Linked DNA regions of Homo sapiens. The protein of the gene in region 3 binds, or shares a complex with, the protein of the main gene of each other region. Each region holds a gene or a part of one and is shown on either strand. Other genes may lie near its edges.

The links.
Region 1: NUP98 (region 3) and NUP214 share a complex: the UniProt entries of both Homo sapiens proteins name them as parts of the nuclear pore complex.
Region 2: NUP98 (region 3) and NUP153 share a complex: the UniProt entries of both Homo sapiens proteins name them as parts of the nuclear pore complex.
Region 4: NUP98 (region 3) and NUP188 share a complex: the UniProt entries of both Homo sapiens proteins name them as parts of the nuclear pore complex.

What each region holds. Positions count from the first base shown.
Region 1 is NC_000009.12:131,225,284-131,232,620, reverse strand, and holds part of NUP214 (nuclear pore complex protein Nup214), read right to left. Parts: intron 4,462-7,337; coding exon 4,290-4,461; intron 1,992-4,289; coding exon 1,852-1,991; intron 338-1,851; coding exon 313-337; intron 1-312. UniProt on the Homo sapiens protein: Part of the nuclear pore complex. Has a critical role in nucleocytoplasmic transport.
Region 2 is NC_000006.12:17,624,609-17,631,945, forward strand, and holds part of NUP153 (nuclear pore complex protein Nup153), read right to left. Parts: intron 4,932-7,337; coding exon 4,047-4,931; intron 1,557-4,046; coding exon 1,200-1,556; intron 226-1,199; coding exon 1-225. UniProt on the Homo sapiens protein: Component of the nuclear pore complex (NPC), a complex required for the trafficking across the nuclear envelope. Functions as a scaffolding element in the nuclear phase of the NPC essential for normal nucleocytoplasmic transport of proteins and mRNAs.
Region 3 is NC_000011.10:3,715,287-3,722,623, forward strand, and holds part of NUP98 (nuclear pore complex protein Nup98-Nup96 isoform 1 precursor), read right to left. Parts: intron 5,540-7,337; coding exon 5,426-5,539; intron 4,265-5,425; coding exon 4,126-4,264; intron 1-4,125. UniProt on the Homo sapiens protein: Plays a role in the nuclear pore complex (NPC) assembly and/or maintenance. NUP98 and NUP96 are involved in the bidirectional transport across the NPC. May anchor NUP153 and TPR to the NPC.
Region 4 is NC_000009.12:128,995,862-129,003,198, reverse strand, and holds part of NUP188 (nucleoporin NUP188), read right to left. Parts: intron 6,336-7,337; exon of another isoform or gene 5,049-6,335; coding exon 4,971-5,048; exon of another isoform or gene 4,662-4,970; coding exon 4,576-4,661; exon of another isoform or gene 4,511-4,575; intron 4,028-4,510; coding exon 3,882-4,027; intron 3,576-3,881; coding exon 3,394-3,575; intron 1,671-3,393; coding exon 1,470-1,670; intron 1,316-1,469; coding exon 1,223-1,315; intron 383-1,222; coding exon 224-382; intron 1-223. UniProt on the Homo sapiens protein: Component of the nuclear pore complex (NPC), a complex required for the trafficking across the nuclear envelope. Required for proper protein transport into the nucleus.

The DNA.
Region 1 (7,337 bases), on a different chromosome or scaffold from region 3:
GAAACCTCCAGGGAAGTCAGGAGCAGCATCTCCTCAGCGCTGCCCTCAGGCCCAGCTCACTGGCAGGCGTGCTCTTTTCTCTTTGAACCACGCCTCTTAAGAAGGCGAGGCCTGGCACCTCCTGCCATATTGCTACAGAGAAGAGCAAGTCCACAAAACCCAAACCCTGCTGCTGAACCCCCACACTTCCAGGACAAACTCTAAAAACAGGAAAAAACGAAAAGAAAATGCACAAATCCAGCAAGATCCACACACTTCCAACCTTATTTAATGCTTTTAATTAAGGTGAGACTCAAAAAGGGGGATACTTACGAGTTATTTGACCCAAAGCTGAACCCTGAAAAGCAGAATAAGAGTGAAGTTAAAGCACGCATCCACTCGAAAGACAAAGGTGGTCCCCATGCTAAGTGTCTGCCCTCCTCTGTGCTTCTTGTGGGAAGCCCTCCGTGCCTCCACCACCTACAGGAAGGCAGGAAAGGTACACACAGAAGCCCCTTTATTCTGAGTTTGTCCTCTGGAGCTACTCAGATCCCCCAGAAGGCAGAAAAAATCCTTTACTTTTTATGAGTTATCTTCTTGGTATTTTAGGGTTCTTCCTCCCTCCTCGGCCCCAGCTGTAGGCAGAGGGTCTCTGGCTTGGCCTCTCAGCTGTACTGGACCACATAGATCCATTCATTAGGAAAACCTTTTTTTTTTTTTTTTTTTTTTGCTGTTGTTGTTTTTCCATCCATTTGCTTCCTCTTCTTTTTGGGGGCCAGAGAAGCAAGATGGCTGGATTCTAGGCCTGGTTCTACTGCTAACTGCTAACACTTAGTTCCTTGGAGTTTCTGTTTCTTCACGGGTACAATTGTAATGATACCTAAATTCTGTGCCTTGTCAGTTTACTGCAAGAACAAAATGGAAGACACATATTCTGCCATCTGAAGAAGCAGAGTGTTAAACAAATGCAAGATGTTTTGTGAAGTTTCTATGCCTTTTTTTTTTTTTTTGAGTCTGCTGGCTTAGATTTTTTAAACCAAGGCCTAGTAAGACCATTATTATTTTGGGCTTCTCAAATCCTGAGAGGAAATCAAGACAGTAATTTCTTTGGTAAGAAATGACACAGTGTTCTAAGTCTAACTAAAACCTAAAAAAAAATATATATGCCAGGTGCTGTAATCCCAGCACTCTGGGAGGCCGAGGTGGGTGGATCATGAGGTCAGGAGATGGAGACCATCCTGGCTAACACAGTGAAACCCCATCTCTACTAAAAACACAAAAAATTAGCCGGGCCTGGTGGCGGGCGCCTGTAGACCCAGCTACTCAAAGGCTGAGGCAGGAGAATGGCGTGAACCCGGGAGGCGGAGTTTATAGTGAGCCGAGATTGTGCCACTGCACTCCATCCTGGGCAACAGAGCGAGACTCCGTCTCAAAAATATATATATATATATATGTTTCAACCACTTTCAGTATGTTACATATTTATTTATTTTGAGACAGGGTCTCATTCTGTCACCCAGGCTGGAGTGCAGTGGTGCAATCACAGCTCACTGCAGCGCTCAAGTGATCCTCCTGCTTCAGCCTCCCGAGTAGCTGGGACCACAGGTGTGTGCCACCATGTCTGGCGAATTTTAACATTTTTTGTAGAGAATGGAGTCTTGCCATGTTGCCCAGGCTAGTCTCAAACTCCTGGGCTCAAGTGATCCTCCTGCCTTGGTCTCCCAAAGTGCTGGGATTACAGGCGTGAACCACGTGCCCAGTCAGCTTTTAAAATACTAAACAGACTGGTCAGGTAAAACATACTCATTTCTTTGGGGGAGAAGGCAAGAGGGACCCATTTTGCTTGTGAGGGGAGAACTTGTGGCAGCTTACCTCCTGTGCCTGATCCAAAACCAGAGAATCCGCTACTCTGGGTCCCAAAACCAGAAGTCTGTTGGGACAGTGATCCGAAAGTGGGGGCATTCTGACTCGCGAGCGTGCCGAAGGATGTGGTGTTGCTGCTGCTCCCAAACCTGCGCTCCAGTGAGAAACAGACTGAGGTCAGTGGGGCCTCTCACCACTTGCCCATCTGCAAGCCTCAGCCCCCTGCTGTAAGTCCCAATACACACGACACTCATGATCCAGGGTGACAGGCTGGGCCTAACTAGCAGCCTTTCAGAGAGAATGAGCTATCGCCCAGGGCCAACTTTTATCTCTGCTCTAGGAAGAAAAATGGCAGGACTACAGTATGAAATCCAACCTGGCCAGTGTTTTAGTTTCCATCCCCCATTGGAACACCAGGGCATTTGGGAACTATGCAGTACACAGTTCCTGCTCTACCTCCAACAATCCTTAAGCTTTATTCTATCATTTTAGCATTTCTCACTTACCGACCATTCCCCCACATCCTGCTCCCATTTATTTATCTTCAGCTCCTCTTGGGATCTTGATTCTATTTACTTTTTCCAAGTCATTTCATTCAGGATTTTGTATTTGCTTCCTGAATCAATAATTACTACCCAAACCAATGTAAAAGTGGCCACTATTTTCCTTCCCCTGCTCGCCCCACCTGGAGACAATCCCCTGTGCCCCCTCACTCAGTTCTCCCTCCAGATATGGTCCAGCACACAAGGTGGCACTGTGTGACCTATCAGAGCCCCTTGAATTGTTTGCAGAGGAACTCGGCTGGGTTGGGGAGAGCTTCTGGGGTCTGGAGGTGACTAGGTGAGGGAAACGGATCAGTGGTTTCTGGGAGAAGGGGCAGCACCTGGGGGCAAGAATCAACCCCAAAGCAAGAAAAAGTATCTAAAACTCTGCCTTCCCACCATTCTATTCACTTTTAATGGTGAGGTCAAGGCTCTTTCCATACAAAGGTGGCCAAGGGATCTGCTCTCATTGGACTTTCTCCCAGGAGCGGCCTGCTCCCTTCCTCCTCCTGCCTTGGGCCTCATCAGCAACAGCCTGCCCTTCAGGGTCGGAGACAGGCTCATGGCCAGGGACCTGGAAGAAGGTAATGGGCTCTTATGGAGATTTAATAACTGACCTGGCATTAACCTTTTTTAGGACTGACTAACCAGCCAATCGGGATTTGTGTGAGAGCCGCCCCAAGGCAGAATATACTTTTCTACTAGTAAAGAAAACAGCTGGTTTCAAATAAATAAATCAATTCACAAGATACCCAGCCAACCCAAACCTTCTACCAACTCTGTGGTACTGTGTGCTGGTTCATCACTGCAGAGAACAGCATCCATTAAGACCTCTGAGAATACCAGCCTAAGTGGGTCTCTAACTGTCCTTTCAAAGCTTTCCTTAACTTTAATTCTTGGGGTTTCCTGAGGGCAAACCTAAGGCATCAGTCTCCCGTGAAACAGGAGAAGCAGCACGCCAACCCTCTCACTCCTGCTGCTGCGCTCCAGCATCTTGCACGGAGGGGAAGGGTGTGAGTAAGAACATACTATAGTTTATTTTCAAGATAAAGATGCTGTCATCTTGCCAAGACTCAGATCCAAGTATCTCAACAATTCCCCTAGACAAAATCATCTCCCCTCCCCCAAACCTTCAGCTCATGCTGAGCCCAGTACTGCGGCAAGAGGCGTTTTAGAACTCCTTTCAGGCATCGACACCTCCTTTGAACAAGAGACTTGGTAGTCATCCCGTGTACATTTTTTAAATTGGGATGTTGTGGTGTGGTGAAGGTTTTTTTCCCTTGGGGTTTTGGCAACCACACTGAAATTCTGCCCTTAAAAGCGACTCCCTAAAAATGGCCTTTTCCAGTGCAGACGCACACGAGGCAATGAGAGCAGCTTCGAAATCCCTGATCATCCAGGATCTTCCCACGGGAGGACCTGTGCAACTGAATACTCACTCTGGGGGGCTGCAGGGGAGCAGGGGACACAGGGAGTTGTTTGTTCAAGGACAACGGGTCTAACACAGAATAATCCCAAGAGGAAAGAATCTGGTGAAAACCATTCATTGAGGACTTCCTAACAGAAGCTCCACACCGGGGCACCTCTTGGCTACAAAGCAGTAGTTAAGGCAGGGCTGGTGCCTTCCTTTAGCCCCAGCAGGAGAACAGGGGCTCTGATGACCAGCATTTCTCATACCAGGGAACAGCAACACAGCTGAGGTCCACCATGAATTCAACAAAGCCTGGCTTGAACGAAATGAGTCTTACCCTGGAGAGGTACAGGAATCCTTGAGGGAGTTGTTCACAAATTTCAAGGGAGGGGCCTTCACCTCATGGTCAAATTTCTTTTCAGAGCAAGAGTACAGGCCCCTAGTGCTTTTTGGCTGGCGTGTGGGTTCCCAAGGGCCCTCCCCAGGGGGCTTACCCGAATCCTCCTGCGCTGGCAGCTGCAGTGCCCTCTCCGAACACTTTGCCTCCCGTCGAGCCCAGAGGGCTTGTAAAGGCTGGGGCTGAACCGAATGCTGGCACCCCTCCAAACCCAGGGGATCCCCCAAAAGTAGGAGGGCTGCCAAACACTGGAGCAGCACCGAAGCCACCTGAGCAAAACAGAGGCAAACAAACAGAAATAGGGAGAAAGAAAGGAGGAGACAGGAAGAGAAGACATTGAGCAATGAGAAACCAAATCAAAATAGGAAGAAAAAAGGGAAAAGAGGATGTTAGCAATTCAAATGCAAGAACTAGAGTAAAGGGCAACACCCCCCCTCCCCCCCGCCCTTCTATCAAGAAAATAGTAATGAAAACAACAAAACAAAAGCCCTCAAACCAAACCACTCCCCTCCATTCCTAGCAGAGGGCTCTGGGGTCCACTCAGGAGAGCTCCTGCAGACCCTGTGAAGTCACTGTGAAGCCGTGTGAGCAGACCTCCAAGAGCCCACTCGGTGCACCTTCCACCCCTCCCAGGTCCTCTGAGCTGTTTGGAGTGAAAAACCATTCTCAAAAACTCCAATCCCTACCTAGCTGACAAAAGATGACAGACTATATTACTTATCAGTACACAGGCAAGACATCCAGCTTCATAGAAACCCAAATTATAAAATCAGAGGCTCAAAACCTCCTCTCAGGGAGAATCCCTGAATTGGGTCATAGCAGAGACAGAGACGTGTATGCTGGCGCCCAGCCAGGTGCTTTTTATTTATTTACAGCCTGATGGCTCCTACGTCTCTCATCAGAGTCTCCCTTTCTCTCGCTCAGTGGAGGTTTGTTTTTTTTTTTTTAAATGCTTTTTTCCTGCAGTCTGGAATTACTTCCCAATGAAAAAACACACCAAATTTCTTCTTTGGAGGCAGGCTGCTGCATAAATCTAATAAAATAATAAGTCAACAGTGAGGACAGCCCTAGAGTTCAGATGCCTTCTGCAACGTTGCCAACACTGCTGCCCAGTGGGCTCAGGCTGCCAGAGGGCAGCACCACACAGGTGGCCACACAGACAAGGGTCAGGTCACGCACAGGGCACCCTACTCTGATTGCTGGTGATGCCTGTCAGGCAGGAAGACAAAACATCCTCTCCTGAGCTATTCCTGATGCGGGTTCCCAAACTTCCAAGATACTGCTGAAATCATTCTAAAGTATTAGAATAGACACTCAGTGAGTGTCTTCTTGAATGAATGGAATAGAATGGCATAAGAAATGTGCTCTAACTGGGAGCACCCTCTAAAGGGAGTACTTCTTAAGGTGAGTGTTGGCCTATGAACTGCGTGCTAGCGGGAGTAATGGTGGCCTAGCGACAAGCCTTTTCTCCCCTTTCAGAAAGTCAATCTGTTGTTAGAGGGATGAAATCCAGACTTCTTATTGTTTATGTAATCACAACACAAGCTTCTGCCATCTGAATCAGGAAAGATCAAATCCTGGGTATGAAAAGTTGTCAGCTGAATCCCTCAGTTAACTGTTATTTTGTGATTCACTCATGTGCCTATTTGCCATTAACAGTGGTAGGCTGCACAACTGAGAAGATACTTTTTTGCTAAGGCTCGTGTTTGGGTTAACATTCCGCATGTTAAAACACTGAGTGAAATTCCAAGCCATGATAATGGAGACTGTTGGGTTATAAATATAACAGACTGGAAAAAAAAAAGTGCTAAAAAACCCTTACAGTTGAATTATTTAAGACTGATCACAGATCTAGTTACACTTTCTTCCTAGACATGCAGGGCGCTATCTAGTACCTTGTATCAATATTGCTTAGACTTCTTGGTGGAAGGTGAGTGAAAAATGGGAAGTCATGATGATACAGAAAATAAACTGGACAGGGGAGGGGTGGCGGTTAAATATACACAGAGAGAAAAAGCCCCCAAACAACACACCTGGGTCACAGCCAAATTAAACAGGAAGAAAACAGTCACTCTGGCTTAAAGAGGCAACTCTCTCCTGATGGCAGGAGGGGTTTGATTTTATCAGTTGCCGTATTTTCATAAATTTCTTCTCCAGAAGAAACAAATTTTCTAATAATCAATGATGATAAACTTTCTGATTTATTGAGGGCCCACTATATGCCAGGTGCTTCACAGCAGTTTTCTTAAATCTTCCCAATAAGCCTGGGATCCTTACATCACAGGGGAGGAAACTGAGACTTAGAGAATATGCCACTTGTCCCAACTTCAGCCAGCTGATGGGTGCTAGAGCTGGGACTGGAACAAGGTCTGTGCGACTCAAACGCCCACCTCTCATCTTCCCCATCATTCATCCCCTGCCTGCCTCCCTCCAAATCTAACACTTTAGCGAGACAGCAGGGTGTAGACCACTGACCATGGTGGGCAGCAAGGCCATCTTCAGTCCATCCCACCTTCCTCCTGTCCTCTCCCCGGATGACCTCCAGCAGGATAATTTTATAATGCAATTTTACTGAAGGGAGGATAGATACTTTTGGAATTTTTCAAAGACCCATCCAAATCATCAACTTAAAATCTCTCTTAAAGCAAAAAGTGCCCTGATGCCTGGACAGGAAGGCAGTTCCTCTATTCACAGCAGCCCTTCCTTCTGCTCGGGACTTCCAGTCCCCTCTTTCAATAGAAAAAGCTCTCCCAGAACCAATACGAGTTCTGCAGCAGAGAGATGAAGTCCTGAAACATGAGGGGGAGTGGCCTTTCCCCTGCCCTCACTTTGATGTTTATGGTTACTAGTTCACTCATCTTATGTATCTGAAAGATAGTTGTTCTCTATTCGAGGCCTCAATCTAAGTATTAGTTTCATGGGGCAAATAAGTACTTACTATGAAAAGTTGGGGCATACATTTTCTCTAAGACTAGACAAATAAAAGGGTCAGATTTTCTTTCTTTTTTTTGAGACAGAGTCTTGCTTTGTTGCCCAGGATGAAGTGCAGTGGCATAATCTTGGCTCACTGCAATCTCTGCCTCCCAGGCTCAATTGATCCTCCCACCTCAGTCTCCCGAGGAGCTGGGACTACAGGTGTGCACCA
Region 2 (7,337 bases), on a different chromosome or scaffold from region 3:
GTCCAAACACAGGGGGCTGGCTACTGCTTGACACTGTCCCAAAAGTAGGTGGTGCAGGCTGAGAACCAGTGGGAAATAATGCTGTGGAAGATGATATAGATCCAAAGCCTGGGGGATTGGGCTGGCTGGCACCTTGACTTTGTCCAAATGTTGGGGTCTGGTTAGCACCAAATGCTGGACTGGCAGATGGTGCTGAGGGTCCAGTTCCAAATACAAAGGAGGATCCTGGAGGCCCAAAGAAACACTTAAGTCACCATGGTGGCTAATGTCAGATTATCCTCAAGAAATTTCTGTAAACCCACAAGCAAATGTCAAGCTTCGTTTCAGACTCTTACCTTGCTAACCAAATTCCATCAAGACAAGTTTTAAATAATGATTGAGAATACAACGCTCTCTACCATTATTTAGTGAAACATACTAAATTCATATAAACAAAAACTGCAATTAACAACTACTCCACACCTTTACAGCCGACAATTTCTGGTAAAGGAACATATCTCAGAATAATCTCCCACCAGAAATTTAATGTGTGCAGAAATTGCCTCATGATGTGCATATATACATTGCATAATAAAGACTGATGTTTAATAAAACAACTTCCAGTGTCTGGTTACTGACAACCTAACATTTTAAAAACAAAGCTTGGGGCCAGGCACAGTGGCTCACACCTGTAATCTCAGCACTTTGAAAGGCCGAGGCGGGCAAATCATGAGGTCAGGAATTCGAGCCTGGCCAACATGGTAAAACCCCATCTCTACTAAAAATACAAAAATTAGGTGGGTGTGGTGGCGGGCACCTGTAATCCCAGCTACTCAGGAGGCTGAGGCAGGAGAATTGCTTGAACTCGGGAGAGGCAGGTTGCAGTGAGCTGAGATTGCACCACTGCACTCCAGCCTGGGTGACAGAGCAAGACTCCGTCTCGAAAGAAAACAAAAACAAAAAACAAAGCTTAGAAAAATTAAGTATTACACTCTTACCACAATTAGAAAAATTGCTCCCAAGAGGTAAATATGTTAAAGTTGAACACAGAGAGTGTACATTATTCCATACAGTGAATAATTAAAACAACCCTGGTATAGATGACCAAAAGGCATTCCCACCATTTTGTGATAACCTGCTATATGATATTCGCTAAGAACTGACACACTAATAAGTAAAGTCCATCCAATTACAATGCATTTTTTCTTTTGTAAATGTACCTGCAGAGCTAGATGTGGTTGTGGCTCCAAAGCCGAAACCAGAGGTGGTAGTATTATTACTGCTGGCTCCTGGACCAAAGACAAATGGGGTGACAGCTGTACCTGTGCTGGATGTGGTTGCTAGTTTGCTATCTTGAGAAAATAGCAAAGACTGAGAGGTGCTGGATTCAGCAGTGTTACCAAAGGCAGAGCTGCTCACAGGATTGCTGGACTGTCCAAACACAAAGGTAGCCACAGGTGGATTGGAGGAAGAGGTGGAACTACCAAATATGCCACCACCAGCAGAAGTGGCTGGTGTACTTGAACTAGAGGAACTGTTGTTCAAGAAACTAAAAACTGGCTTTGCTGCACCTTGATCTGTAAGACAGAAATTAAGAAACAAACATAAATCCTTAAGAATAGTCTCAGAAAGTACTTTTTCCTACCCTACAATTGCTAGAATTTTCCTACCCTAGAATTCGCTAGAAAATAGATTTTTTATATAGATTACTTCATCAAATGGACATCTGTTTATATTAGATTTTGACAAAGTCAAATACATTCATCTTCTTTTATAGCTTATGGATTTTAGGCCTTTCATAGGAAGGCCTTTGGCATTCAGGTTAATAAAAATACACCTCGAATCCAAATCTAACTGGATACTGTAGTTGAATAGCAAGCTTAGATAGTGGAAGACAGCTGTACTTTTATATGTTTTATTTTGCAATTTATATTACAGTATGTGGCAAAATCATAACTTCAATTTATCTAAATGGATAGCCAAGTTTCTCCACAGCATCAACTAGTACAGCCTTTGTGCACTAATTTGCAATGCTGTCTTTATCACACACTACATTTCCTAAAATGCATATACTTGTTTCCTCTACTGTTATCACTAGACTGTTTTAATTATTATAACTTTATACCATGGACTGATATTAGTAGGACAAAGCTGCCTGTGTGCCTGCCCTTCTTCCCAAAATTTCTTGTGTGGTTTCCTTTCCATGTGAATTTTAGAATAAGTTTAGCTTGTCAAGCTCTACAAAAATTCCCCTAAGAACTAAAATTATGGGAGGAGGAAGGGAATACCTTCACCCAGCAACAAGTATGCCTTTTGTGTTCTTTTAGTTATTTGGCATGTTACAAGTTCTGCTGCTTTTATAAAATACAAGTTAGAAATGTTAGGAAAAACAAATGAGACATGCTGATTTGAAGAAAAACTTTTGATTTTTATATGGTGATTCTGAATCCAGCCACCTTATTGAAGATTTTTTTCTAAACTATTCCAATAATCTCTCAGTTCCAATACCGCACACTATCCAGGGCTGGTCACAGTACACTATGGGCATTAGTATGACTTACAGAAAATGGAACATGTTGGCTTACTTTCAACCTGGCTAATGGAAGAATGGTTAAGAGTGTCTACCATAGCCTGGTGTTTTCATCATCAAATCTGATTAGACCCTATCATGTTTTTGTTGCTTTCCAAATAATATGTAATTTTAGTTTTGATTTTGTCTTTATATTTCTAAGTAAATATATAACAGACAAAAAACTGCTCATAGCTATTTGTTGAATTCCATACTTTTTAAAGGTTAATTTTGAGTGTTTCCAATTTATTATTCAAAAGTATTCATGGATATTCAACTTTTGCATTTTTTGCACATCTAAAAACATCTGTATTTTGCCTTTGTGTTGGTGTTTTTTTGTTGTTGTTGGGTTTTCTTGAGACAGAGCCTTGTTCTGTTGCCCAAGCTGGAGTGCACTGGGCCAATCTCTGCTCACTGCCACCTCCGCCTCCCAGGTTCAAGAGATTCTTGTGCTTCAGCCTCCCGACTAGTTGGGATTATAGGTGTGAGCTACGGCACCCGGATTGTCTTTATATTTAAACACATTTGGCTAGTAACAGAATTCTAGGTTCAAGAACATTTTCACTTTAAGGGCACTGTTGTTTTTAGCATGTGATGTTACAAATTAGAAGATGATGCTAATCTGATACCTGCCTATTTGTGGCAAATAGCTTTTCTCTCTGAAAGCATTTGGGGTTTTAGCTTTGGTGTCCTAAATTTCAGTGATCTTTGCCAATAGGTAATTTCCATTTTTAAGACCAATGTCTTTCTTTAGATCTAGAAAATTTTCTTCTGTCACTTCTTTGATATTTCCCCAAAACTTCTTATCTTCTAGGCCACTCCTATCCCAAAGGAACTTGTGGATCTAACTTGGATCACTCTTTGTACTGGTGCACTAAGTTTGGGGAAATTCTAGTTCACTAATCTGATTATCAGCTATGAAGTTCTTCCTGCTATTCAGCTCACAGAATGACTTTAATAGGATCCACCAACAATCATGCTTTTAACCTTTAAGGTGCTATGTCATTTTTTTCCCCAGGACTTCAGCTTTCAAAATCTCTTGTTTTCTCAGGATTAATTATATTTGTTGTCTATGTTTCTTAATGTTTGATGAGGACTGGTTATCTGTAACTATTTGTAAATAAAGGCCTTCCCATAGATTATGGTAGAAAATACTTCATAAGCTAAGAATCCTTATTTTCCAGGTAGTAGATACCAATTCTGATTATAAAAGCCCAAACAGAAGAGAAAGACACACATAAATATGCACTATATTGAGCTTTGCATTACTGCTGTATTTCTCAAAATTAGATCCACAGATGACTTCACCAGAATCATGAGGGTTTTAAAGAGCAGTTCAAACTGAAAATCCTAGGTTCCTTCCCAAAGAGTTCTGTATTTCTCAACTATGTTCAGTGTAAACCATTAATTGACTTGCTGCATCTGTCAAGGCAACTTGTAAAACGACAACTTGTAAAAAAAAAAATAATAATAATAATAATAAAAAGTTAATACTTACCAGCTGTAGTACTAGTTTGAGCTCCAAAGGCAAAAGTGGCTTTTGCTGGCTGTTCAGATTCCTTCTCAGATGGTTTTGTCATACTAAAACTAAATGTGGACTTTGAAGAATTCTCATCTTTGGTTTGCTCTGAATTCCCAAAGGAAAACACTGGTTGACACTTTGGCTCTTCATTGTCAGCTTTCTTCCCAAAAACTAGGGAAGTAGAAGTGACAGGCTCTTGCTGTTTCTCTTCTGTCCTTCCCAAAACAAACACTGAGGCAGATGGCAGAGAGGCAGGCTCCACGTTGCCAAAAGAGAATCCTCCTTTGGTGGCAGGCATTTCTTCTTTTTTAGCTTCTGATGTCTTACATGTGAAAGGAGCCACTGAAGCACTCTTGGTTTCTATGGTTCCAAGGTTGAAGCTGCTCTTGTTCTCAGAGGTCACTATGGTGTTAGCAGGAGCAGGGGTGGAGTTAATAACACCTGTACCAAAGCTAAAACCTGCAGAGGAAGATTTGGGCAGTTCCTCTTTCTTTTCTTCCTGTCCAAGATTAGATACCCCAAATTGAAATGGAGTTAAAGAAACTGGGTTGCTTAAACCAGAAGAAAGTCCAAACTTAAAATTATCATTCTTACTATCTTTTTTAACTTCTTCGGGCTTAGATTCAGATGAAACTCCAAATTTAAAATCTCCTATTGGTTTAGAAAATTTAAAGCCTTCACTCATGGGGTTTATAGACCCAGAATCGGATGACACACCTATTTTGAATCCTCCCTGATCTCCAAATTTAAAATTTCCAGTGCTTGTTAAAGTCTGAGAAGGCCCAGAAGAGGATGATGAGACACCAAATTTGAAGGATGAGGAGGCTGCTGAGTTCGAAGATGAGGAAGATGTGTCAAAGCCTACAAAAATATAAAAGACACCACATAGACACTCAATGTACTGATCCTCTCAAACAAAATGTAAACACTGTGAAAGCCAAAGAAACATAGGAGTAACTTTGAAAGGGCCTACTTTGAAGAGTATTACCAGCAGCTGTAAACATAATCCAAGGTGACCTATATTTAGTCGGTATGAGAATGATATCTCAATCCTCACAACTATCCTGACAAGCCACTTTTCATTTATCAGACTGGCTGCGATAAAGTTTGATAAAGTTTGTACTAGTGATGAGACTGGAAGTAACAGGCTACACATTGCAGGTGGGTGTATAAATGAACACAAAACTCATAGAGAGCAATCTGTCAATAGTTACCGAAAATTACAAATGCATATACCCTTTGACCTTGCAATTCTATAGCTGGAGTTTGTTTTAAAGATAAACTCATAGACATGCAAAATGCCATATGCAATCCAGGCAGCTATAAACGAAGAAGGAAGAACAAAGATGTGTCCAAGATAATCCCTGATAAAATCAAAGGGGCAGAAAGGGAGTGCGGTATACAGACTTTTCTAACAAGGTAAAAGGAAGTAAGAATATATAGGGGTATGTATGTTTGCCTTGGATGGGCATAAAGAAACTTTGAAAGATTTACAAGAAACTAACCACAGTTACATTTGGAAGTGGGAGGGAAGGTGGAAAAAGAGACAATGGAGAGAAGAGATTGAACCTTGTCACAATTTCTTGATTTTTAAATCTTGTGAATAAATGTGTTATTCACTCAAGCATTTAAAAAAGGAAGGCAACAGAAAAACAGAAGAATTACAGAGTTGAAGCAATGTTTATAAAGTTAAACATCAGACTGGGCGTGGTAGCTCACGCTTGGAATCCCAGCACTTTGGGAGGCCAAGGCGGGCAGATCACCCGAGGTCAGGAGTTCAAGACCAGCCTGGCCAACATGGCGAAACCCCATCTCTACTAAAAATACAAAAAAAATCAGCCAGGCATGGTGGTCTGTGCCTGTAGTCTCAGCTGCTTGAGAGGCTGAGGCAGGAGAATTGCTTGAGCCCGGGAGGTAGAAGTTGCAGTGAGCCAAGATTGCGCCACAGCACTCCAGCCCGGTCAACAGTGAGACTCCACTTCAAAATAAATAAAGAAAAGAAAACAGAGGAGAGCAGAGGAGACGGGAGACGAGAGGGGAGGGGAGACAAGAGGGGAGAGGGGAGGGGAGAAGGGAGGGGAGAGGGGAGAGGGGAGAGGAGAGAAGAGAGAAGACAGGAGAGAAGAGAGAGGAGAGAAGAGAAAAGAGAAGAGAGCAAGCATTATACTGACAAGATCAAAGTCTTGGTTTCATAATGCTTTTCTGCAGCTAAGGAAATCAGAAATGAAGTACTTGACCTACTGGCTCAAAACAAGGATCATTAAGAAGTACTAAGATACTTAAAAGTATGGTGATTACCACACTACAGGTAGAGAACAGTATAAAAAGGGGAGCATGAATTAACAGCTACAGAAAGAGATAAAATGAACCAGAAAGCACAAACTTCTAAAACACTTAAATGCAGTGTTTTTCAAACTGCTAGTTGTATACCATTAATCATCAATTAATTTAGCAGGCTGCAACCAGCACTTCTCTTTTAAAATAAAATAAAACAGAAAATACCAGGGAACCTTACACCTACCAGAGGCAAGTATTATTTTGCAAAACAGATTTCAATCATATAGACATATACGCTGTGCAGGTGATGGCTCACAATATAAAAGGTTTATTCCTGACTTTTGGTTTGCAATCAAGAGTTTGAAAGCTAATTACAAAGTAGATAAAGCTTGCTATTATTTTTGTTTAATTTGTATAAATTTAAGGATTACCAGTGCAATTTTGTTACATGGATATGTTGCCTGGCAGTGAAGTTTGGGCTTTTAGTATATTCATCACCCAAATAATGTACATTGTGCCCATTAATTAATTTCTCATCATCTACCCCCCATCCCATCCTCTCACCGTTCTAGGGGTCTACACTCTGTCCACTGAGTACACTTTATTTAGCTACAACTTATAAGTAAGAAGATGAAATATCTGTCTGAGTTGTTTCAAGACATTAATCCTCACACATTTTCTCCTTGCGGGCTTACTCTTTTACAGAAGACTTGAAAAATCTGGCCTCCAGACCAGGCGTGTTGGCTCACGCCTGTAATCCCAGCACTTTGGGAGGCCGAGGCGGGTGGATCACGAAGTCAGGAGATTGAGACCATCCTGGCTAACATGGTGAAACCCCCGTCTCTACTAAAAACACAAAAAATTAGCTAGGCGTGGTGGCAGGTTCCTGTAGTCCCAGCTACTCGGGAGGCTGAAGCAGGAGAATGGCATGAACCCAGGAGGCGGAGCTTGCAGTGAGCAGAGATCGGCCACTGCACTCCGGCCTGGGCG
Region 3 (7,337 bases):
CAGGTGCCCGCCACAACACCCAGCTAATTTTTGTACTTTTAGTAGAGACGGGGTTTTGCCATGTTGGTCAGACTGGGCTCAAGCTATCCACCTGCCTCGGCCTCCCAAAGTGTTGGGATTATAGGCGTGAGCCACCACGCCCGGCCATTTTTTTTTTTTCTAGTAACCATCCTAATGGGTATGGTATCTCATTGTAGTTTGATTTGCATTTCTCTAATGATTAGTGATGTTGGGCATCTTTTCATGTACTCCTTGGTCATTTGTATATCTTTGGAGAAATGTCGATTCAAGTCCTTTGCCAATATTTTCTTCTTTTTTGAGAGACAGGGTCTCCCTCTCCCGCTCAGGCAGGAGAGAAGTGGCATGATCACAGCTCACTGTAACCTCTGTTCGAGACCAACCTGGCCAACATGGTGAAACTCCTGAGTTCAGCTGAACCTCCTGCCTCAGCCTCCTGAGCAGCTAGGACTACAGGTGTGTGCAACCATGCTTGACTACTTAAAATTTTTTTTTGTAGATACAGGGTCTTCCTATTTTCTTGAACTCCTGGCCTCAAGCAATCCTCACTTCTCTGCCTCCCAAAGTGCTGGGATTACAGGCATAAGCCACTGCACCCATCTTCTTTGCTCATTTTTTAAATGGGTTATTATTTTTGTTGTTGCTGTTGAATTGCAGGATTCTTTATATTCTGGCTATGAACCCCTTATCAAATATGATTGGCATATATTTTCTCCTATTCTTATAGGTTGCCTTTTCACTTGTCTTTTGCTGTGCAGAAGGTTTTCAGTTTGATATAGTGTCATTTGTCTATTTTTGCTTTTGGTGCTTATACTTTTTGATGTTATATCTGAGAAATCATTGCCAAAACCAATGTTATGAAGCTTTTCCTCTGTGTTTTCTTCTAAGAGTTGTAAATTTTTGGATCTCACACTTAGGTATTTTATCCATTTTGGGTTAATCTTTGTATATGGCATAACTTCACTCTTTTGTATGTGGATATCCAGTTTGCCAGCATCCTTTGTTGAAGAGACTGTCTTCTCCCGATCAAATAATTTTTTTTTTTTTTAGTTTTTTTTATGTGTGCTCCACACCACCCTGCCCCCGAGTAATTTTTATACCTTACTGAAAATCATTTAAGACTGGGCGTGGTGGTTTACACCTATAATCCCAACACTTTGGGAGGCCAAGGCAGGCCAAACACTTCACCTCAGGAGTTTGAGACCGGCTGGGCAGGCAACAAGGCAAAACCTCATCTCTACAAAAAATACAAAAATTAGCCGGGCGTGGTGGTGCATCTCTGTGGTCCCAGCTATTTAGGAGGCTGAGGCAGGAGAATAGCTTGAACCTGGGGGCAGAGGTTGCAGAGAGTCATGATCACACCACTACACTCAAGCCTGGGTGACACAGCAAGACCCTATCTCAAAAATCATTCGACTATATAGATGAAGTTTTATTTCTGGGCTCTCTATTACATTCCATTGGTATTTATGTCTGTATGCCACTACCATACTGTTTTGATTATTATAGATTTATAATAAGTTTTGAAATTTGGACATGTGAGACCTCCAAATTGTTCTTTTTTGAGAGTGTTTGGCTATTTGGAGATTTCTGAAATTCTATATGGATTTTTCTATTTCTACAAATCATGCCGCTGGGATTTTGATAGGGACTGCATTAAATTTATGCTTCACTGTAGGCAGTACTGACATTTTAACAATATTAAGTTTTTTTCTTTGACACGTGGTCTCGCTTTGTCACACAGGCTGGAGTGCAGTGGTGTAATCTGCAACCTCCGCCTCCCAGGTTCAAGCCATTCTCTAGCCTCAGCCTCCGGAGTAGCTGGGATTACAGGTATGCGCCACCACGTCTGGCGAATTTTTGTATTTTTAGTAGAGGTGGGGTTTCACCATGTTGGCCAGGCTCACTTGTCTCAACTCCTGACCTCAAGTGATCTGCCCGCCTAGGCCTCCCGAAGTGCTGGGATTACAGGCACGAGCCACTGCACCTAGCTGAACAATATGAAGTTTTCTAACTCATGAGTATGGTCTGTCTTCCATTTATCTGTGTCTGGTGTACTTTCTTTCAACCATGTTTTGCAGTTTTGTATAAACAAGTCATTTACCTCCCTGGTTAAGTTTATTTGTGTATATTTTATTCTTTTTGATGCTACTATATATATGAAATGTTTTCTTAATTTTTGTTGTTAGTGTATAGCAGTGCAACTGATTTTTCCATGTTGATTCTGTATCCTGTAACTTTGTTGAATTTGTTTATAACTAGTAAGTTTTTTTGTGTGGCATCTTTAGGGATTTCTACACAAGATGTCATCAAAGAACAGAGATAATTTTACTACTTTTCAAAACTGTATTAACTTTTATTTTTCTTGCCTAATTGCTCTGACCAGGACTTGCAGTAGTATATTTGGGAAAAGTGGCAAAAGCAGGCATCCTTGTGTTGCCTTGTCTCACAGGAAAAGCCTTCTGTATTTGAGTGCCTTTATTATGAAAGAGTGTTGGATTTTGGTAAATACTTTTTCTGTATTATGATGATGATGATGATGTGGTATATTCCTTTATCTTGTTAAAGTGGTATGTTTCACTGACTTTTGTATGTTAAGCCATCCATGCATTCCAGAATAAATCTTTTGGCCATGATGTGTAATCCTTTCAATACGCTGTTAAATTCTGCTTCCTAGGGCTCTGTTGATGACTTTTTCATCAATATACTCATCAAGTGGTCTGTAGTTTTCTTTCCTTGCAGTGTCTTTGGTTACTGAATAAGGTAACGCTTGCCTCATAGAATGAGTGTGAAAGTATTCCCTTCTCTTCAATTTTTTGGAAGAGTCTGAGTAGGACTGGTGTTATTTCTTTAAACGCTTAGTAGAATTCACCAATGAGGCCATCTGATTCTAGGTTTTTCTTTTTTGACAAGTTTGTGATTACTGAGTCAATCTCTTTACTAATTATTGGCCCGGCACAGTGGCTCATGCTTGTAATCCCAGCACTTTGGGAGGGCGAAGTGGGCAGATCACCTGAGGTCAGGAGTTCAAGACCAGCCTGGTCAACATGGCAAAACCCTGTCTCTACTAAAAATACAAAAATTAGCTGAGCATGGTGGCGGGCACCTATAATCCCAGCTACTCTGGAGGCTGAGGCAGGAGAATCGCTTGAACCCAGGGGGCAGAGGTTGCAGTAAGCTGAGACTATACCACTGCACTCCAGCTTGGGCAAAGGAGTGAAACTCTGTCTCAAAAGAAGAAAGAAAGAAAAGAAAGAAAGAAGAGAAAGGGAAAAGAAAAGAAGCGGAAGGGGAAAGGAAAGGAAAGGATCGATTGATCTGCTCAGATTTTCTATTTCTTCCTGATTCAGGGTTGGTAGGTTATGAAGATAAATAATTTTCACTACAGCCCTTTCACTTGACTAAGATATTAGAAGCTAGGATCTCACACTAAAATAGAGAGTTAAGTATAGCCACAGCAGAAACAGGAATAAAGCAAAATACTATTAAAAAGAGTTTTTGAAATTAGCAGTTGGACCCAATAAAATCAGGGAGGCTGGGCAGCGTGGCTCACACCTGTAATCCCAGCACTTTGGGAGGCTGAGGTGGGAGGATCACTTGAAATCAGGAGCTCAAGACCAGCCTGGCCAACATGGTGAAACTCTGTCTCTACTAAAAATACAAAAATTAGCCAGGCATGGTGGCGGGCGCCTACAATCCCAGCTACTTGGGAGGCTGAGGCAGGAGAATCGCTTGAACCCGGGAGTCGGAGGTTGCAGTGAACTGACATCATTCCACTGCGCTCCAGCCTGGGCAACAAGAGCAAAACTCCATCTCAAAAAAAAAAAATAATAATAGTAAAATGAAATGAAATGAAATAAAATAGAATAGAATCGAATCCAAGGAATGTAAAAAAATGAATTAAAAAATAAAATCAGGGAAAAGGAGTTCAAAATCACAGTATAGCATTTCTTTGCCATTTATACTTTTAAATCAAAGTAGAGACAATAAATGTACTCTATAGTAAGGAAAGCAAGCTACAGAAGCATACATCTAAACACATTTATGTTTACAGAAAAAAAAATTGTGATTTAGCTGATAATTTTCTGTATGTACATAAACTCTTACCTATTTAGCCCTTCACCCACAGGTGGTTTTTGGTTATCATCTAAGTAGACAACTACTTCTTTCCTCCGGATATGCACAATATCATCCAAATTTAGATTTGTCAAATTCACATCTCCTTCAAAATAGATTGAACCATAACCTATAAATCAGAGCAAATAGTTAAAAATTCATTCTGTATGAAGGCAAATACCTACTTTACAACTATAGTGATTAAACAATCACAAGGAGAAAGCAGTTTTAAGTATTAGTATTTTAAATAATTCAGCAATTCCTAGACTGGTAAGAATGGGGACTTAGGGAGAGTAACTTCAATTACACTGTTATCTGATTTAAAATCTGCATTTTTCTTTTCTTTTCTTTTCTTTTTTTTTTTGGCAAGGTCTTGTTCTGTTGACCAGACTGAAGTGCAGTGGTCCTGTCTCACTGCAGCCTGAACCTCCTAAACTGAAACAATCCTCCCACCTCACCCTCCCAAGTAGCTGAGACTACAAGCACATATCATCAGGCCTGGCTCATTTTCTTTACTTTTGGTAAAGGTGAGGTCTCACTATGTTGCCCAGGCTGGTCTAGAACTCCTGAGCTCAAGTGATCCTCTCACCTCAGCCTCCCAAAGCGCTAGAATTACAGGTGTGAGTCACTGCGACAGGCCTAACATCTGCATTTTTATAAAACTCCCATTAGCCTCAAAACAACCTTCTTAAATCTCTTCCCATTTATCTATAATGACGCTATATAAACAAACCTTCGCACTTGGCCTGGCATATGGGTTAAAATGCCTGAGCTCTTTTTAATACAATATAGCACAGTGGCATTTCCCACAAGAAAATTATCAGTAATAATAACATGAAGTTCATGCTAAGTGTTATACATCTCTTGCCTATTATTCAATTTTCTCAGAAGTTCTTGGTATTTCCAGTATTTTCTTTAATTACAGAAAATTAAAATGACCCAAATAGTTACTAGCACCAAACAGGTATACCTAAGCCCAAAGAATATTATATGGTTCTGTGCTTCTCAGGAGGCTGAGGCAGGAGAAATGCTTGACCCCAGGAGTTGAGATCTGCCAGGCAATGTAGCAAGACCCCATCTCAACAGAAAAAATAAAATAAATAAAAATAAAAAAATTTACATGGTTCCAGTCTTTCTTGTTTTGTTACTTATCAATCAAAGTATTTAAGATTCAGGCCAAGGTGGGCCCAAATGTAGGAAAATGAAGATTCAGCTATCAAAAGCTTCCCCTAATTACAAAAATAAGGTGCAACTCTCTGGCTTAATCACTAAGTGCTAAACTCACACTTACCTTTCCGACCAATAGTGAAATCAGAGACAATGCACTCTCCTTTTTCATTGGTAATTTTAGCAAGGTCATCCATAGATGGAATAGTATAGTAACCAACCTTAGTGAGAATAATACCTGTGACAAAAAAAAAAAAAAAAACAGAAAAAAAAATAACCTGAAATAATCAGCAACTAAATCATCATATAAAGAGAAAATATATCAGAATGAAGAATTTTCCAAACTACTTTTCTACCAAACATGATTCCTAGGAGAAGGGGTGTGTGAGTGTGTGTGTGTGTGTGTGTGTGTGTGTGTGTGAAAAGCTTCATGGTCAAATAGGTTTGAAGAACATACATATGATACATCAAAGAGTCTAAAACTTACAGTAAATAGCCTATTAAACTCTGCTTAACCTCGTGTTTTTCCAGATTTAACCACAGAACATTATTTTCAAAGGACACCCATTAACATCCCGGACTATAAAAGGTATCTCATAAAATACTCTGAGAAAAGCTTAATCAGCTTTTTATTTTATTTTACACACAAGGATACCAAAACCTACAGTGGAAATAACTTGTGTTGGCTTATACTGTAATTTAACAATAGAAGTAGATATAAAACTCCAAACCCAATTCTTCTTGTTTCATTGCCTGTTTTGCATAAACCTCTTTTATTTTTCAAATTTACACTCCCAAATAAAGAGCTAAAAGAAAGATGAAAAATCCAGCCAGGCAAGGTGGCTCATGCCTGTAATCCAAGGACTTTGGGAGGCCGGGGTGAGTAAATCACTTGAGGCCAGGAGTCCAAGACAAGCCTGGCTAACATGGCAAAAATCCATTATCTACCAAAAATACAAAAATTAGCTGGGCATGGTGGCGGGTGCTTGTAATCCCAGCTACTCGGGAGGTTGAGGAAGGAGAATCGCTTGAACCTGGGAGGCAGAGGATGCAGTGAGCTGAGATCACACCACTGCACTCCAGCCTGGGCAACCAAGAGTGAAACTCGGAAGGAAGGGAGGGAGGGAGGAAGGAAGAAAAGAAGAAAGAAAGAATAAATTAAAATAGAAAAAAAAATACCAAAATAAAAAAAGCAGAGCGCTGAAAAACTCAAGGAAAGTAGTGGAACGCTGGTGTGCTTGCTTGCTCTATTCACTCCTTGTCCTACTTGTAGTCAGATATAAGGCTAACTTGCTCTCTGAGAGAAAAGTATTTCAGGCCAACATCAGACCAAACTCCAGCCTCCAGCAACACCCACTTGTATACTTGCTTCTTGGGAAGGGAACTCTAAATTGGGTGGCAGCAAACAAGGTAAATGAAAAAACTAGAATATAAAACTTCCTATTAAAAAGATATATAGTAGCATAATAAATTCATGTAGAGATACATACACAAATACAGATTAAGCACCTGGAATTCTTTTTTTTTTTTTTTTTTTTTTTAGGAGACAGGATCTTGGTCTGTCAACCCAGGCTGGAGTTCAGTGGCATAATCATAGCTCACTGCAACCTTGAATCCTGGGTTCAAGTGATCCTCCCACCTCAGCTTCCGTAGTAGCTGCAACTACAGGTACATGCCACCACACCTGGCTAATTACTTTTAAGTTTATTGTAGATATCAGGTCTTGCTATGTTGCCCAGACTGATTTCAAACTTCTGGGTTCAAACGATCCTCCCACCTAAGCCTGCCAAAGTGCTGAGCCACCACACCCAGGCTACCTGGGATTCTTACTGTCAAAGTATAAACTTCTTTCCTTATGATACTAAGTAACCAAATATATATATATATATAATGGCAATAAGAAAACTAAATATAAATTTTGGAGACACTTCAAGAATACCACAAAACACCCAAAATGGGCTGGGCATGGTGGCTCATGCCTGTAATCCTAGCACTTTGGGAGGCCAAGATAGGAGGATCACTTGAGCCCAGGATTT
Region 4 (7,337 bases), on a different chromosome or scaffold from region 3:
AATGGCTTAGTGGTACAACCAGGATTCTGACCCGAGACCGTTCCCGTCCTTCAGCAGACTAGCTGGCCAGTGAGCCAGCAGAGTACTTAGAGCATCTCAAAAATGAAGGCATCGACAACCCTCCGCTACTGAGGCCCAGGCTCCACACCCACCTGCCCCATGAATGGCCCAGTACCTTTTTTACCCTGAAACTCCCACCCCTGCAATGCAGGCAGCCCCTCACCTGTAAGGTCCGCTCCTGGTGGACACCCACGAAGTCCAGGGCCTCAGGCAGGAAGTTGTAGCGCAGAGTTTTGAGCAGCTGCTCCATCAGGGACATGGACAGGCGGTAGACTCCTGGCCAAGAGGGGGCATCCAGGGACTTCCGAGAGGCACTAGGTGTCTAAGATACAAACAGCAGACAAGCTCAGGAACCCTGCTGAGAGGCAGGACCTCCTTGTAGTACAGCAACTAAGGCAGCCCAGCTGCGCTGAAAGGAAAAGATCTCCCAGAATAGACACAGCCACTGTCTGGCCACCAGGGCCAGAAAGGGGCCAACACCAGCAGATTCAAGGAAAGAGCACCAGGCTGAGACACAAGACCCAGGGTTCCAGACTCAGGTCTGCCACTGACGAGCTATGCGAACCTGGACATGTCACTGCCCTGCTCTGGCCCCTACATACTTCCTCTAAGGGGTAGCTGGGCTAGATGACCAAATACTTCACGACTCTCATGAGAGAGAGAGGTTCAGGTGAAGACTACTCTTTTGAAATTAGGAGGTATCTGTTAAACTAGAAATAACCAAGGGACACAGAGGGCAGGGTGCTGAGGCCCCATCAAGCCCCCAGACCACCCACTTCCCTTCTCCCAGTCCTGGTCTGGTGGTGCAGGGGTGGAGAAGTCACAATGACACACTGTCTTTGGGAATGACAGGAGAGGACAGCTGCCTTGGCTAGAGGCCTGGTCCAGGGATGTGTTATCAATCTGGTTTAGTCTTCCTCACACCTGCAATGGGAAGAATCCATCCCATCTCCCAGAGGTAGTGCACAAAGGCCAGGCGGTGCCTTTTAGTGGTGAGTTTCTCTTGCTAGAGATCCGCCTGGGGGCAGGGAAGATTCCTCACCATCAGTGTATTAGGCAATTTAGAGGAAAGCAACTTCCGGGGAAAGGTAGGGGAGGACACTTTTCAACTGGAACTGTAGGGTGGTCAGGCTGGGCCTCCTGGCAAGCTCCTGACACTCACCTGTGCTGTGCCGTTGGTGCTCAGCTGGTACACACTCAGAAGGGGCAAACAAATGCTCTGGGTGATGCCAGCTCCAGCCACTGCTGTGGCTCCCTGGGAGGAGGGAAAGACAGGAAATGAGATGGAGCCTGCCCCTGCCCTGCCTAGGGTAGGTAGGGCTCTCAGGCTAGATCACAGCTTCTGGGATTGTCAGAACCCACCCAGGCAAGCAAGGACGCTCCCTCCTGCCTTCGGGCTGGCCTCCTACCTGCTGAGTGCGAGCCAGGGTGAGGAGCAGATGCAATGTGGCCTCAGTGAAATGCAGGTTCTGCTTCATGCGAAGGCTCACCTCTAGAGTGGTGAGGAGGGTGGGTAGGATGGGGAGCCTGCGGGTTACCTGCAGCCAGGAGTCACCATCCTCGTCTACCTCACACAGCTCCTTGGCCAGGTGCAGGCCCAGGACACACACCTGCCCAGAGGCAAAGATGAGTAAAAGGGGGAAGAAGAAGAGGAGGAGGAAGAGGACGACAGGCAGCGGTGGGCCTGGTTGCCCAAGACCTGCTTGGTTACACACATTGCTAAGTGAGCTTGAGTAACACAGAATGCACACTCTCTCCCACCCTGCCCCTCTCCTATGTCCAGCTCTCAATGAACAGCAGCAACTCCAGCCAATCTAATGAGCAACCCTAAACTGACCAGAGCTACCCCCGCCTCTTCCCTCCCACCTCCCACACTGCCACCACCCTTGTCAGAGCCACCTCGTCTCATGTTGGACACTCCAACCAACTCTGCCACATGGAGTCTGAGGGACCCCTACGACCCTGCCCGATGCCACCTCCTGCTCTGCTACTGCAACCATCTCCTAAATAATCCTGCTCCATCCTCTCTAATCTATCCTTGTACCAGTGGCCTTTCAACCTTCTTTTTGGCCATGACCCAGAGTCATAAAGACATTTTTTTTGAGATGGAGCCTCGCTCTGTCCCCCAGGCTGGAGTGCAGCGGCGCGATCTCGGCTCACTGCAACCTCCGCTCCTGGGTTCACGCCATCCTCCTGCCTCAGCCTCCCGAGTAGCTGGGACTACAGGTGCCCGCCACCACGCCCGGCTAATTTTTTGTATTTTTCATAGAGACAGGGTTTCACCGTGTTAGCCAGGATGGTCTCCATCTCCTGACCTCATGATCTGCCCGCCTCGGCCTCCCAAAGTGCTGGGATTACAGGCGTTAGCCACCGTGCCCGGCCCATAAAGACTTTTTAGACTGTATCCTCATGTACACGTTTACAGTTTTTCACTAATAATACCTACCCTAATGTCACACAAAGCACAGTGATATTTTCTTAAACACTTTATTCTACTTTATTTTAAAAAAATGCTGGTTGTGGCCAGGCGTGGTGGCTCACGCCTGTAATCCCAGCACTTTGGGAGATCAAGGCGGGCGGATTACGAGGTCAGGAGATCGAGGCCATCCTGGCTAACACAGTGAAACCCCGTCTCTATGAAAAATACAAAAAGTTAGCCGGGCGTGGTGGCAGACACCTGTAGCCCCAGCTACTCGGGTGGCTGAGGTGGGAGAATGGCGTGAATCTGGGAAGCAGAGCTTGCAGTGAGCCAAGATCGCACCACTGCACTCCACCCTGGGCGACAGAGCGAGACTGGTTGTAACAAAATGTGCTAATTTCAAGACTCTCTCTAATAGGTCATGATCCCACAATTTGAAAAATACTATTCAATACTGCATCCAGAGTGATCTTTCTTGGGCACGCCTGTAATCCCAACACTTTGGAAGGCTGAACTGGGAGGATGGCTTGAGGCCTGGAGTTTAAGTCCAGAGTGATCTTTCTAGAGTAAAAATCAGATCAACTTTTTCCCCTGCTTAAAAGCCTTACATCATTTCCTATTTCACTTCGGATCCTGCATTTGCCCGCGGCTACAATCTCTAAGTCATTGCTGAAAAGGCACCTAAGTCCCAGTTCAAGTCAGAAGTGAGACTAAGTTCTCCCTGCACTTCTCTCCTGCAGTACAATGGGCTGCTTCTGCTTTTCTGCAGTGTCTGATCTATTAACCTTTCCCACCAGGCCGTGAACTCCAGAAGTGCAGCGACTATCTGTCTTGATCACTACTTATCCCCAGAGTCAGGCACAGAGCTGGCGGGCAGTGGAAAGGACGGATGGCCTTCTAGGGCACTGTCTCACCCCATCACGCTGGTCCCTGTGCCGGGACCGAGAACAGTCGTCAGTCTCCATGCTGTCCTTGTCCTCTGTGGCACTGCCTAATGCCAGACTGTGGCGGGTCTGGTCGAAGAGTGCAATCACTTCCTCTTGGAGGGTCTCACAGACATTCAGCACCAGCTGGGAGTACTGGGGGATGTCACTTACTGTAGAATAGACAGGGAGGGACACTGTCATGCTCACCAGGCCAACTCTCACTGTACACCAAGGTTTCCTTCCTAGGAAGGGGCTGGAGATGTACTAGGGCGCTAGGAGGGACAGCATCTGTCCAGTGGGAGAGGAGGGAGAGACACATGAGGGAAAAAAATAGCTTTCTTGGGGTAAGAATTCCATGACTGGAAACTCAAAAGTCCCAGAAGAAATGTGTGGCCCTAAGCTGAAGGAAGCCCTGCCTGGCTGTCAGCAGGAGTGGGCAGACTGCAGCTGCTGCTCCCCCTGCCTCTGCCCCTCACCTTTCATCTCCTTCATTTGCAACACTGTGATGAATGCTGAGAACACCTTGGCCTTGGTCTTCTCCATGAGTTGCTGGTCGGCCTGCAGCACTCCCTCCAGGATCTCCGTCAAGGGTCCAAGGATTTCATCCACAGAACCTAACTCTCTAGAAAGAATACTGGGTGGGCCAGGCGTGGTGGCTCATGCCTGTAATCCTAGCACTTTGGGAGGCCAAGGCGGGTGGATCACCTGAGGTCAGGAGTTCGAGACCAGCCTGGCCAACATGGTGAAACCCTGTCTCTACTAAAAATACAAAAATTAGGCATGGTAGCGCGCACCCGTAATCCCAGCTACTAGGGAGGTTGAGGCACGAGAATCACTTGAACCTGGGAGGTGGAGGTTGCAGTGAGCCGAGATCGCGCCACTGCACTCCAGCCTGGGCGACAGAGTGAGACTCCGTCTCAAAAAAAAAAAAAAAAAAGAATACGGGGTGGGGAGTGAGACAAAATACCTCATAAAAGGCCACACACTGCCCCTGCTCCATCTCAGGATATCCACCAGTCTGCCTCACCCTCCTATCTGCTATGTCACTCCCATTCCTCAAGATGGAAAACCAGCCCAGCTTCCACCCACTATTTCTCCCTTTCAGGAAGGCAAGCAGGCACTGACAAGAAGGCTCTGGCCTCGGGCTTGCCTCTCCTGGCACAGCCTCACCTCTTCCACTGCCGGAGGAGGATAAGCAGCAGAGTGCACTTCATGGAGCCAAGGCGAAGGCAGTTCACTGAGGCTGGAACTAGGAGCTGAAAGGAGACAGCACACCAGTCAGAAGTCAGTGGAAAGATTCGCATGCCATCCACAGGGCACCTCCGGCCTCATTGCCTTTCTTCCCCAGCAGTGAGCTCACAGGAGTGGAGTGGAGGGGGAGAAGCCAGGGTTGGCATGGCAGCAGCAGAGCTCTGCTGACCCACTACAGTCTCAGGCCTCCCAGGCCAACGTGAGCCCTGTGACCTGACTATTTGTGCGGCTGGCTGGCAGACTCATGACCTCTGCTATTTGACTTCAAAGACAACCTCCCTGGGAGAAATGTAAAATCTCCCAGACACACTTACTAATGCTTTGGTTCCATCAAGCACGTCAAGAAAGAGCTGGCGACGCACCACAGAGTCAGTCAGGTGCATTATATCTGCCTGCAAAGGAACAGAAAAAGGTTTCAGCTGGGAAAATTTTCCAGATTTTAGAGGCCAAGAAACATGGGGTCCTCTGCTAGGCAATTAGTCATTGGTAAAACAGTCTCCCTGATTTAAAATAGGGCTTATATAGGCCGGGCGTGGTGGCTCATGCCTGTAATCCTAACACTTTGGGAGGCTGAGGTGGGCGGATCACGAGGTCAGGAGATCAAGACCATCCTGGCCAACACGGTGGAACCCTGTCTCTACTAAAAATACAAAAATTAGCCAGGCATGGTGGCGCGCACCTGTAGTCCCAGCTACTCGGGAGGCTGAGGCAGGAGAATTGCTTGAACCCAGGAAGCGGAGGCTGCAGTGAGCCGAGATCGCACCACTGCACTCCAGCCTGGCGACAGAGAGAGACTCCGTCTTAAATAAATAAATAAAATAAAATAGGGCTTATAGTCTGGGCAACATGATGAGACCCTATCTCAACAACAACAAAAAATGTTTAATTAGCTGGGTATGGTGGTGCATGCCTGTAGTCCTAGTTACTTGGGAGGCTGAGGTGGGAAGATCACGTGAGCCCTGGAGGTTGAGGCTGCAGTGAGCCATGATTGCACCACTGCACTCCAACCTGATCAACATAGTGAGATCCTGTTCCCTAAAAAATAAAGTAAAATAGGGCTTGAAGGCCCTGCTGTTCTTCTGTCAACCCTTAGATATGGTCAGAATCAAGCCCAGGTTCACCTCCTCTTTGAGACTCTGTCCTCCCTCTGCTTAGAATCCTTGAAAGGCTTCCCAGTGCCCGGGAAACGCAAACCAAGCTCTTCAACATGGTCCAAAGACCCCACAGGATCTGGTCCAACTGATGTAGTATCAGTCCCATCTGTGCTCACTCTAGTCCAACCCTGCTTGCCTCTTTCATGAACATATCAAGCTCTTTTCCACTGCTGGAACTTTGCACTTGCAAGTCCATCTGCCTAGACTTCTCTCCTCCACGGGCTCCACCTGGAAGGCTTCTTCACACATTCAGCTCTCAGCTGGGACATCACCACTCAGAGAAGGCCACCCTGACTACTTCTATCTCATGTGTTCATTACCACAGCACTTTAATTATTTCCTTCACAGCAAATTATCACTATCTGAAACCATATTTTTTATTGCTAAATTTGTTTATAATTTACCTCCTCCATCATAGGGCACTCTCTATGCGATCAAAGATCTTATCTGCCTTATTCACTGCTGCATCTCAATGCCTGGAAGCGTTCCACTAATGCCATTAAGAGAATGAATGGGTGACCAACATCCTGGACTTAGGTTTCTTTCTCTTTTTTTTTCTTTTCTTTTGTATAGGTAGACAGGTGAGACAGAGAGCCAGATAGGTTTCCTTTGGGGAAAGAGGATGGTGGGATTTTCAGAGCTACAATTCAAGAACTGCTGCCTAACTAGGGCCTAAAAGGCAGGTGACATAAAGGTTATACCCTGGGGAATCAACCATTCTCAAAGACAGGTGAGCCTTTAAGTGTGTTTGGAGCCTTAGGGGTCCAAAACCACCATGCCACAGCAAGAGTAGCCACAAACCTGCCCCTCCTAGGCTCAAAGCTCCAAGCATGTGGGCAGTCTGGCACTAGGCAACAAATTTCACAGATGTAGGAGGTGCTTGGAAAAAGGAGGCATCTATCAAGCTGAAGTTGTTCATGAAGTCAAAAGATTAATCTGGGCCAAGCGTGGTGGCTCACACCTGTAATCCCAGCACTTTGGGAGGCCGAGGTGGGTGGATCACCTGAGGTCAGGAGTTCGAGACCAGCCTGACCAACAAGGTGAAACCCCATCTCTACGAAAAATACAAAAATTAGCTGGGCGTGGTGGCAGGCACCTATAATCCCAGCTACCTGGGAGGCTGAGACAGGAGAATTCCTTGAACCCGGAAGGCGGAGGTTGCAGTAAGCCAAGATCGCACCACTGCATTCCAGCCTGGGTGACGGAGCAAGACTCCGTCTCAAGAAAAAAAAAAAAAAATTAATCTGGATACCCCAAGAAAGAACACTTCAATACCAAGTCCTTATGATACAGCGTGACGGAGTCAAACCACAAAAAAGCCAAGAACAATGCATTTCTTCCAGATGTTATCTCTCTCTCTCAAAACCAACTCCCAGTAGACAGAGTACAGAGACAATGGCCTCTGTTCTTTTTCTAAGACCAGGAAATGCAGTTTCTAGAACCAATGACAAACTGCTTTTTAGAGAGGGTGCTGCTGCAGCTGTCACAGCTCCCTGCTGACTAGTCAACAAGTATTTATTGACCTAG